3 linked regions of the Homo sapiens genome follow. The protein of the gene in region 1 purifies or fractionates together with the protein of each later gene. This does not show direct contact. Each region holds a gene or a part of one and is shown in the gene's direction. Other genes may lie near its edges.

The links.
Region 2: the proteins of RC3H2 (region 1) and EIF4ENIF1 purify together in Homo sapiens (affinity purification with mass spectrometry, with the first as the bait; one large-scale study listed by BioGRID). This does not show direct contact.
Region 3: the proteins of RC3H2 (region 1) and DHX30 purify together in Homo sapiens (affinity purification with mass spectrometry, with the first as the bait; 2 studies listed by BioGRID). This does not show direct contact.

Annotation. Positions count from the first base shown.
Region 1 is NC_000009.12:122,874,345-122,877,992, reverse strand, and holds part of RC3H2 (roquin-2), read left to right. Parts: intron 1-409; coding exon 410-522; intron 523-2,624; coding exon of another isoform or gene 2,625-2,820; exon of another isoform or gene 2,821-3,648. UniProt on the Homo sapiens protein: Post-transcriptional repressor of mRNAs containing a conserved stem loop motif, called constitutive decay element (CDE), which is often located in the 3'-UTR, as in HMGXB3, ICOS, IER3, NFKBID, NFKBIZ, PPP1R10, TNF and in many more mRNAs.
Region 2 is NC_000022.11:31,487,743-31,491,490, reverse strand, and holds the start of EIF4ENIF1 (eukaryotic translation initiation factor 4E transporter), read left to right. Parts: upstream 1-1,648; 5' UTR 1,649-1,797; intron 1,798-1,934; exon of another isoform or gene 1,935-2,247; coding exon of another isoform or gene 2,248-2,343; intron 2,344-2,745; coding exon of another isoform or gene 2,746-2,772; coding exon 2,773-2,868; intron 2,869-3,748. UniProt on the Homo sapiens protein: EIF4E-binding protein that regulates translation and stability of mRNAs in processing bodies (P-bodies). Plays a key role in P-bodies to coordinate the storage of translationally inactive mRNAs in the cytoplasm and prevent their degradation.
Region 3 is NC_000003.12:47,844,522-47,848,169, forward strand, and holds part of DHX30 (ATP-dependent RNA helicase DHX30), read left to right. Parts: intron 1-1,178; coding exon 1,179-1,331; intron 1,332-1,643; coding exon 1,644-2,480; intron 2,481-2,751; coding exon 2,752-2,827; intron 2,828-2,910; coding exon 2,911-3,015; intron 3,016-3,259; coding exon 3,260-3,435; intron 3,436-3,648.

The DNA of each region.
Region 1 (3,648 bases):
GGAATTGTATTCTACCTTTTCTGAGAAAGTTTAAGTAGACAAAGCTTTTGGTTTTTTTTTAATGCTTTTTAAAATTGTTTGATTTTGGTAGCAGAATTTTAAGACAGCAATAAATTGATGAAAAAATATTTTCTTTTTCTGGGCATTCTGTTAACTAATGAATAAATGGACATAACATTTGAACCAGTTTCGAATAATCTTCAGAAGGAATATCTGAAGTGCCAATTCAGGGTTATGTCACATAACTCACAACAGGAAACAATGGAATATTAGTTGTTTCAGCACAAGAATTACTTGTCTAATGTGAAAAAGAATTAAAGGTGTAATTATAAAGTTCTGAACTTCCTAGAGTGAATAACAAATGGAATCTTCACCTTGCCACTCATTGAATGTGTTCCCATTTTTGTAGCCTCAGCCAAACAGCAAATACAAGACTAGCATGTGCCGAGATTTGCGACAGCAAGGGGGTTGTCCACGAGGAACAAATTGTACATTTGCCCATTCTCAGGAAGAGCTTGAAAAGTAAGTGTTGAGAATTCTGTTTCATATGGGTTTAATTTTTGATTTTTATGGGAATGTTATATACAGTCCTGAAGTTTGTGATGACTTTCAAAAATGCAAGTTAAGGGCTGGGCACCATAGCTCATGCCTGTAGTCCCAGCAGTTTGCGGGGCTGAGGCAGGAGGATTGCTTGTGCTCAGGAGTTTGAGACCAGCCTGGGCAAGATAAGGAGACCCCCGTCTCTACAAAAAATTTAAAAATTAGCTGTGTGGCCCACAGTTGTGGTCCCAGCTGCTCAAAAGACTGAAGTGGAAGGATTGCTTGAACCCCATAGGTCAAGGCTGCAGTGAGTGTGTTCACACCACTGCACTCCAGCCTGAGGGACACAGCAAGACTCTGCCTCACAACAAAACATATAAGATCTGGGTACAAGATTTACATAAGTGATTTAGAACTTTACTCAGTGGTCATATTTTGAGACCATTTTATAGCTGGAATCCATATTTATACTGAGCACCTGTGCAGAATGAAAATACTTGCAGTCTTATTTGCTCAGATTCAGTTAAACCTAGCAGCAAAGTCTCAGGCAAAATGGTAAAGCAGATATATATCCTTTTTACGGCTTTTGGTCTTTTTAACATTCTTTTTCCCTGTGTATTCTTTCTCTTCTCCTATGGTTAACCCCTTTTTCTATGTCCCTTTACCCGAGACCTAAAAGTTAATGTATGTAAGGTTTAATACTATTATCCAATTTTTGTTGTTTTGTTTTTTAACTAAGACTTTCATTTTTGAGACCTCACCAAAAAATTGATCCCAGCTTTTCTACTTTCTGCTGGCCAGTGTATCAACTTTTTTTTTTTTTTTGAGGTGGAGTCTTGCTCTGTCGCCCAGGGTGGAGTGCAGTGGCATGATCTTGGCTCACTGCAACCTCTGCCTCCCCTGTTCAAACGATACTCCTGCCTCAGCCTCCCGAGTAGCTGGAACCACAGGCGCCCACCACCATGCCTGGCCAATTTTTGTATTTTTAGTAGAGACAGGGTTTCACCATGTTCACCAGGCGGGTCTCAAACTCCTGACCTCAAGCGATCTGCCTGCCTTGGCCTCCCAAAGTACTGGGATTACAGACGTGAGCCACCACACCTGCCCTGTCTATCAACTCTTTGTGGGCATATTCATTTTGTTTTTAGATACTTTAAACAAACTGAGCTAATTTTCTCCCATACCTCCTCCTCCTGCCTTCCATTGTACTCACCTCGTGTACCCAGTTTAGCCATCCAGCCTGTTATATATGCTGTGTTATAATAATCATATTTGTCAGCTGTCCTTCCTTAGCTTTTTCTGCTTAATCAGTCAAAAAGTTCTGCCAATTCATCTTCCTATATATTTCTCAGTTCTTTATTCTTCTTTCCATCCTTGTGATCCAAGCTGTCATCTCCTTTTCTCGATCCCTTGTTGCCTTCTCACTAGTCTTAAATCTCTCGCTGTCCACCCCTTCTCCCATTATTTCCCTTAAAACAGAAATATTTTAAAAGCACAGATTTACTCATACCACCCTTCTTCACCTAAGCCTTTGATAGCCTCTCATTGTCCTGTAGATTAAGAAATAAAATCTATGTTGTGGCCTCTAAGACCCTGCATCATCTAATCTGTGTCTGCCTTTCTGATCTCATTACACAACACTAATTGTACTCAAGCCACACTGACCTTCTCTCAGTTTGTGGTATGCACTGTGCTCTTTCCCACCTCAGGTCTTTTACATAATGCTGTTACTCCTAGCCTTGCCTTTGAGACCTTTCCTTTGTCTAGCTCATCCTTCGCTTTTTCAGGGTAATTCCCCTGACACTTCATACTAACCAGCTTCCTCTTTCAAACACTTATCACATAAAATTAATTAGTGGCCTGTTTTAGAGCTTGACAAACTTCTTTATGAAGTCCAGCTAGCAAACATTTTTGGCTTTGTGGGCCACAGAATCTGTTACAACCACTCAGCAGTGCCACTGTAGCAAAAAAACAGCCACAGACAATGCATAAATTGGGCATGGCTGTAAACTTTATTTATAAAAACCCTTTACAGAAACTATGGCCCATGATCTGTTTATTAAATGTTTGTCTATCTTACATAAGTGTAACCCCCGTGGACTATATCTTCATTGTTGTCTCCTTTCCTCAGTGGCTAGCTTGGGCACTGTACATAATGAGCTCTACAAGCAGCAGCATTGTGATAGAGAGAAGATAAGTGTGTGTGCAGTGAAAAGAGCAGAAACATGCTTCTCTTCTCAGTTTTTTTCCCCACTTGAAGTGCCTAGAGAAGAGGATTAAGGAGTCCTAAGGAAAAAAGATGCTGTTTGTACCCAATCGAACTAGTTCTATATACAGAATTTCACATCAAGATAATTTGGGAGACTCCAGGAAATACATTCAGCTTGTCCATACCTGAAATAGAGCTTTTTAGCTAAAAGGGGAGCTTTTGAGAAAGTTCGACTAAAAAAGTCAGAGAAGAAACTGTGGTTTCATTGCCATTCCACCCTCAATTAGTGCCCAGGCTGAAAATCCATTTTCTTCTTTCTCATACCTTCAAACAGACTTCACATTCTTCATCTGCAGTACCTAGTTCAGAACTTTATTATATTTTGCCAGACTTGTAATAGTAGCAGTAAAAATAATAATAGCCAAACTAGGTGTAGTGGCTCATGCCTGTATTCCCAGCAGTTTGGGAGGCAAAGGCAGGAGGATACCTTGAGTCCAGGAGTTTGAGACCAGCCTGGGCAACATAGTGAGACCTCACCTCTACAAAAAAATAAACAAAATTGGCTGAGCATAGTGGCATACGCCTGTCATCTTAGCTACTCAGGAGGCTGAGGTGGGAGGATTGCTTGAACTCGGGAGGTCAGGTCTGCCGTGAACTGAGATTATACCACTGTATTCCAACCCGGGCAGCAGAGCAAGACTCTGTCTCAAAAATATAAATAAATAAAAATAATAAAATAATAAATATATAAAATATCACTCATTCAAAAATAATAATAATGGCAAAATTATTGGTCACATTTTTAGTGTTTCACATGGTAATCCAGTTGGTTTTACTGCTTCAGTGGCTTTTTATCCAGTATCTTCCTATATCTCAATCTGTCTTTTCCATTTCCACTA
Region 2 (3,748 bases), on another chromosome or scaffold:
TGAGGAAAGGGAGATCCAGGTGGTGAAATGCCTGGCTCAGGTTTCACACTAATTGGCAGGGTCAGGATTTAGCAGCTTCAAAGAACGGGCCTTCTCCACTACTCCAGGGAGTCTCCAAGACACTAAAGGGGATTAGACCTGTTTCCCACAGCTTTAGGAAGAATTTGGATTCCAAAAACAGCTTGATTGTTAAAATAATAACATCTGTATTATCACCTGCAACGTGTCTCTGTATAGGCTTAAAAAGGCTCAGCAGCTTTATGGGTTATATATGGTTTTTTACCCACCTTATCCTGTTTAATCTTAACTGCCCCATGAGCAGGTTATATCATCTTCGCAATTTCACAGGTAAAACTAAGAATCAATAGACTAACTCTCCATAGCTTGTAGGAGGTGGCAGAGATGAGAATGCAAACTCAGGCCTGATGTGCAAGTGTTTCCCTCTGCCTCTTGCCTGTAAAAAAACAGTTTGTAAGAAACACACTTTATTCAGTAATACAAACGAAAAGTTTTCTGTTGCCAAGATTCACAAGAAGGGAGCTGAGTTAGTGGTCACTCACTGCCCAACACCCTAATTTCACAAGTGAAGTGAAGTTCCAACAAAGTAGGCCTCTTGGAAGAAATGTAGACGTTGCTGTCCTTTAACCAGGAAAATTGCGTTCTCGGGACTTCACGCCTATGTATCGCTTCACACCAACGCTGCGCAGTACCACAGGGCAGAAATGGGTGCTTGTGGTATTCCAGCACATAGGACTTCCTCCCCAGGATGCAGTTACCCACACTGCTCACATATTTGCATTTCTGTGGCCCCCTGTCAGCCTGAGTCTGCACTACGTGGTAAGCACTTGACATTCGCCGTCTCATTTCCCCAACTCCACTCGCACTTCCCCTTTCTGTGCAGGCTAAGGACAGATTCAGGTTACCGGAGGGAAACAACATTTCAATGAATTTGTTAGTCGCCTTTATCGCTATCAAAGCCAATCGTGACAAGTTTGTCTTTTAATGCAGCAACCAGTACTCGCGCATAAGCCTCATAGATTTACAGAGGCCATTTTAGAAACACGACCGAAACTTAGGTTAAGTCAGCTTTGCCTAAGATCACGCCACTCGCAAAACAGCTGAGGTTCGAACCCGCACTGGGAAGGCTCGGAAGACCCCAATCTCCTATCTCAAATTCCCACTGCCGAAGCCCCACGGTTCTCTGCCTATGCGAACCATGCAAATACAGCGGTCGTCGCGCCACAGGCCGTGCTAGCCGCCAGCCCAGCCCCATCTAGCCACCGCCTCCGGGAGAGTGGCGTGCCGCGAGTCGCGGGTCCCAAGTGCCGTCCGCTCTGCCCTGCAGCGCGCGTGGGAACGCGGCGGCGGTGGCCTCTGGGCTGCCCACGGCGACCGCCTGCGCGCACGGGAGCGGGTTTCCGCTATCCCCACCGTGGCCTCCTCCTCGCCGCCACCACCTTCCCACCCCCCGGCCCGCGCAGGGGCTGGCGTCCGGGAAGCGCGCGGCGATGCTTCTTTTTCGCCCGGCACCGCTGCAGCCACCTCACATCCGGGCGCGCGGCGGGGAAGGCGGCGCCGGGGCCAGGGTGCGTGGAGGGAGTTATTAAGGGGGAGGGGGCCGAAGAGGAGGGGCGGAGGGCCGGGCTGCAGTTACGGCGGCTGAAGAGAGACAGCCCAAGCCGGTCGGGGTGGGGGCGCGAGAGCGAAGGCTGCGGGGAGCGGCGCTGGGACCGGTGCGGGCAGCGGGGAGGGGAGCGGCGGCCGAGGCAAAGGGCCGCCGAGCGGCGGAGGCACCGAGTAAGGGTCGGCGGCGGTGGCGGCTGGGTCCGGGGCACCGCGCGCCCGGTGCTCCCGGGTGTAGAAGGGGCGCGGGCGCATTGCTCCCGGGGTCGCGTGCGTGAGCGCGGGCGCCGGGGCGCCCGCAGGGGGTGGGCAGGGGCGCGAGGCCCGCAAGGCGGCCGGCGGGTAGCCGGCGGGCTGGCTGGCGGGGACCGAGCCGCCGGGCCGGGGAGGACGGCTGCGGGCCTGCGCTAGCTCCAGCTTGAAGCGCCCGGGCCGGGAGATTCGGCCTCCCTCCTCCCTGCGGCCGGCCGCCCCTCAGTGAGTACGGTCTCCGCCCTTCCTCCGAAGGAGGCCGCTGGGCCCGGGCCTGCGTGAGGGGCTGCGGGTTGGGGTCGCGGCCCGGGGAAGCCAAGTTTCGGAGCTGAAGCCGGTGCTCGCCCTTTCCTTGCCATCGGCGCCCCTGACATGGCCACAGGTGCGGCTGGCCTGGCGAGGGGCGCTCGGGCCCCGTCCCCAGTCCCTGATCGCCGGATAACAAGGGGCAGCTGGCGCCGTCCATTGGCAAGTGACAGGCACTTTCCAACAGACTTCGCGGGTTCCCAGCCTAACCAGTCTTCTACCTGCCCCCACTCCGGGAAACTTCCCCACCAGTCTTGAAAGATCCCCATGGGTGGCAGCTACTAATCTTGGTTTCTCTTGTGTTAAAGCTGCTTAAAGGTTATATACCTTGAATTGGGCACCTTCTACTTTTTACCATGTTGATGCTTAGGATACTAGGAAAGAGAACTGAGTACCAATGATTCTATCTCCAAGTTCTAATTTATAGCATAATTTTGGGGTGGGGACTTGTTTTTAACACTAGCTGTTTTGAGAGATTAAAAAGTTTCAGCTTCTGAAGAAACAGCCAAGATTTCTGAAAACTTACTGTTCTCGGTGACAATTTTGTGCCGATTTATCTTCCAGGTGCAGAGCATTGTAGACCAAGGAGCCATGGATAGGAGAAGTATGGGTGAAACAGAAAGTGGAGATGCTTTCCTTGACCTGAAGAAGCCTCCTGCCTCCAAATGCCCCCATCGCTATACAAAAGTAAGGTTTGCCACTAATGAAATAGTGTTTCTTTTTAGGTGGCGAAGTTAGTAACATTGTATAACTATTTCATTCCTATTAAGTGGTAATCTCATTCTGACTCACTACATGGACTAAATATTAACTAAATTTAGTAGTGCATTACTTTGAACATTTTTCTGCAAGTGTAGATACCCAGCGTTTAAGCTGGAATTTGCTTTGAGAGGCTTTTAGGTGAAGGGAATGTAGGCTTAGATTTTTTTAAAATTGCGGATCAGTATACTTTGTAAGTTCTGTAACAGCTATGTAATTGGTACGTTTATTGATTTACATACTGTACTGTGAGGATTAAAGCCCTAGGATGCGTTACAAAGTTAGTGTCCTCTGTATTGATGTTTCCTTAAGAGGCAGACTCCCCATAGGAATGCTCTTGAGTGTGCTTTTCATGGGTAACTGGCTTTTCAATCCTGTTTTTTTATTTTCTATTACAAATTGGATATGGACTCAAAAAAGTAAGGCTTCAGTCATATTTCCCCTAGCTAAAAACTGGAGATGCTTAAACTGCTTGTCCAGATAACTGCTTTTGGGAGAGAGAGGAAGTCATATTTATTAAAGATCTTGCATCAGTACATGTCTTGTTGGCTACTGAATGTTTTTGAAGAGGTTGACAGGACTCAAATTGTAAATTCATTTCTGGGTCCCTGAAATGTGTCAGGCTGGATCCCATAAAACTTGCTCAACAGTGTTGAAGCAGTTGGGACCACTGATGACAAGAAGGGTTATATCCTAGTTGGGCACACATCCATATATTTCCTTAGTATGGATTTTTCTTTTTTTTTTTTTTTTTTTTGCACCCGACAGGGCGTCACTTTGTCGCCGAGGCTGGAATGCAGTGGTGCAA
Region 3 (3,648 bases), on another chromosome or scaffold:
GCAAGGAGCTTGTGTTGGCACCTCCTGTGGTATGAGGACCAGATTCCTGTCCTTTAGGTCCTTATAGCTGATGGTGCCAGCACGCCCAGAGGCAGGGGGTTGGCCCCTGTTGGGGGAAGACTTCTTTAAGGAGGGAGTGTTTGATCTGGGCTCCGAAGGGTGAGCAGAGTCCAGCCATTAGAGGTGACAGGAACACAAGACTAGTTTTACCCATGTGCGTGAGGTATTGGAATGCTATGTTTTATCTCTGGTGAGGTGGCTTTAGGTATGTAGGGAGGTAAGACACAGTGTTTTCCTTCCAGTGGCTTGTTTGATCAAGTTGCATTATAATCGACATTTACAGGAAATTCCACGTGCATCTGTATATGATGGGGTCACAGATGGGTCGGGTGCCATGTAGGGATTGGGAGGCGGGATGGAAGGATTAGGGGAGGAAGGCTTTGATGAGGCAGCAAAGGAAGAGGGAGTCTGTGGGGTGCGTTCTAGCATCGAGGGCCTGGCCTGGCTGGTCTGAGGGTACATGTTGGGAATTCACAGAGGTGACAGTGGCCTATTGTGGTGTTGGGGGGGCTGTAGCCACACAGTGAGTGGTTTCTCCTCAGGGCCTTCTCCAGACGTAGGGCTGTTCTGCTGTGACACATCAGGTTTAGCTTTTCTTGAATTAACTTTATTATTATTTTCTTTGAGACAGAGTCTCGCTCTGTCGCCCAGGCTGGAGTGCACCGTCATGATCTCGGCTCACTGCAACCTGTGTCTCCAGGGTTCAGGCGATTCTCGTGCCTCAGCCTCCCTAGTAGCTGGGACTATAGGTGCCGGCCCCCCACCTGGCTAATTTTTGTATTTTTAGTAGAGATGGGGTTTCACCATGTTAGCCAGGCTGGTCTCGAACCCCTGACCTCAGGTGATTTGCCTGCCTCGGCCTCCCAAAGTGCTGGGATTACAGGCGTGAGCCACCGCGCCCGGCCTGAATTAACTTTAGTTCATTTTTTAAAACGTTTATTTTGGTAAGTTAACATTTTCCTAGTTCATAATTTCTCCCTCCATCACCATGTCAGCCAAAATCCAAAATCTCTTAGAGATTACTTGGCACAACTTATGCGTTGGAGCTCCTGAGCTTGTCTGGGCTGGTTTTTGGGGAGCCCCAGAGCATAGACTGAGTCTTGCATGTCCCCCTGCAGAGCCTGGGCCTGGTGGACAGGAACAACGAACCGCTTACACACGCCATGTATAACCTGGCCTCTTTGCGTGAGCTGGGTGAGACCCAGCGCCGACCATGCACCATCCAGGTGCCCGAGCCCATCCTCCGCAAGATAGAGACCTTCCTGAACCATGTAAGAGGCCCTGCATCCCTCACCACCCCTGCTCCCTGTAGTCTGCCTCCATCTCTCCAGACTGAAGGCCTCCACCTGCGACAGGCAGTAGTACCTCCCCATTCTCTTCACTGAGTTTGGGGCCTGGGATCCCCCTGGCCTGAACAGCCCAGTCTTGCCCACAAGGATCCCGGGGCAGTCATGGACTAAATTAATCCTCTGCCCAGCGGGTTGGGCCACAACATCTGACCCAGGCGAATCCTGCAGAGTGGCTGGTTGTGTGTGAATGAGGAATTTCTTTTTCATTGTTTTGCTTGCCTCCCTGCCCTCCAGTACCCTGTGGAGAGTTCATGGATCGCCCCAGAACTCCGGCTGCAGAGTGATGACATCTTGCCCTTGGGCAAGGACTCAGGGCCTCTGAGTGACCCTATCACAGGCAAGCCCTATGTGCCCCTGTTGGAAGCAGAGGAGGTACGTCTCAGCCAGAGTCTGCTAGAACTGTGGCGGCGGCGAGGGCCGGTCTGGCAGGAGGCCCCCCAGCTACCTGTGGACCCACATCGGGACACCATCCTCAACGCCATTGAGCAGCACCCGGTGGTGGTCATCTCTGGGGACACGGGCTGTGGGAAGACCACGCGCATCCCCCAGCTGTTGCTGGAGCGCTATGTGACCGAGGGCCGAGGTGCCCGCTGCAATGTTATCATCACCCAACCTCGCCGCATCTCTGCTGTGTCTGTGGCACAGCGGGTCAGCCACGAACTGGGCCCCTCCCTGCGCCGGAATGTGGGCTTCCAGGTGCGGTTGGAAAGTAAGCCCCCATCCCGAGGCGGGGCCCTGCTCTTCTGCACTGTGGGTATCCTGCTGCGTAAGCTGCAGAGCAACCCCAGCCTGGAGGGCGTGAGCCACGTCATCGTGGATGAGGTGCATGAGCGGGACGTGAACACAGACTTTCTGCTGATCCTGCTCAAGGGCCTGCAGCGGCTCAACCCGGCCCTGCGGCTGGTGCTCATGAGTGCCACAGGGGACAATGAGCGCTTCTCCCGATACTTTGGTGGCTGCCCCGTCATCAAGGTGCCTGGCTTCATGTACCCAGTCAAGGAGCACTACCTAGAGGACATCCTGGCCAAGTTGGGCAAGCACCAGTACCTGCACCGGCACCGGCACCATGAGGTGAGGGACACCCCCATCCCACCCAAGGCTCCTGGCCTTTCCTCCGTGGATGCCCCTCCTCCCTGGCCCTGGGGCTTGGTGCCTGGGGCAAGTTACCCTCCCCAGTCCTCGGTTTCCTTGATAGAAACTGGGGACTAACCCTGCCTGCGTGGCACACGTGAGGATTGGAGTTGATGTCAAGCGGCTCCGTCTCACTGAGTCAGGTGGCTGTGTCCTTGGCATGACCCCTTACCCCGGGGCTGTGACTGTGGCCTCTCTTCCCCCACCCCAGTCTGAGGATGAATGCGCACTCGATTTGGACCTTGTGACTGATCTGGTTCTGCACATCGATGCTCGCGGGGAACCAGGTGGGTGCCTCCCCATCTGTCCCATGCTAGCCCTGGCCACGTTTGCAGCAACAGCTGGCTCATGCCCCAGGGCTCCTTTACAGGTGGGATCCTGTGCTTCCTGCCTGGGTGGCAGGAGATCAAAGGAGTGCAGCAGCGCCTCCAGGAGGCCCTGGGCATGCACGAGAGCAAGTACCTCATCCTGCCAGGTGAGAGCCCCGGCGGAGGGACCAGGGACCTTTGGAAACCAGCCTGACCTCTGTCCTAGGGACTGACCCAACTGGGACTCCAGGGGCCCCGGTTTCTGACCAAGCTGTGGCACTTTTCACTGGGCATAGTGTTTATCTGCGCCTGTTTCATCAAAATGGGGTCAAAATCCTTGCCCTGCCCACATTCCAGGGGGGAATTCTGGTGGAAGCAGTGCCCATAACTGGTGTGTGTCTTGCCCACCAGTGCACTCCAACATCCCCATGATGGATCAGAAGGCCATATTCCAGCAGCCTCCAGTTGGGGTGCGCAAGATTGTCTTGGCCACCAACATTGCTGAGACTTCCATCACAATCAATGACATCGTGCATGTGGTGGACAGTGGGCTGCACAAGGAAGAACGCTATGACCTGAAGACCAAGGTGGCACCTACCTCCTGGGCCCGGCCAACCACTGGGGGAGGGACTCCGTTTTGAGGTGGTCCCCAGCCCAGATCTACCTTAGACCTGCTTTGTGTGTCTTCAGAAGGCCGCGCTTGTGGGGTCTCAGTGTTCCTGATGTAGGGGGCTGGTGAGGGTTACTCAGGGAGTGGGGAAGCACTGAGGAAGTGGCATTTGTGTGCTGCTTACTTGCCA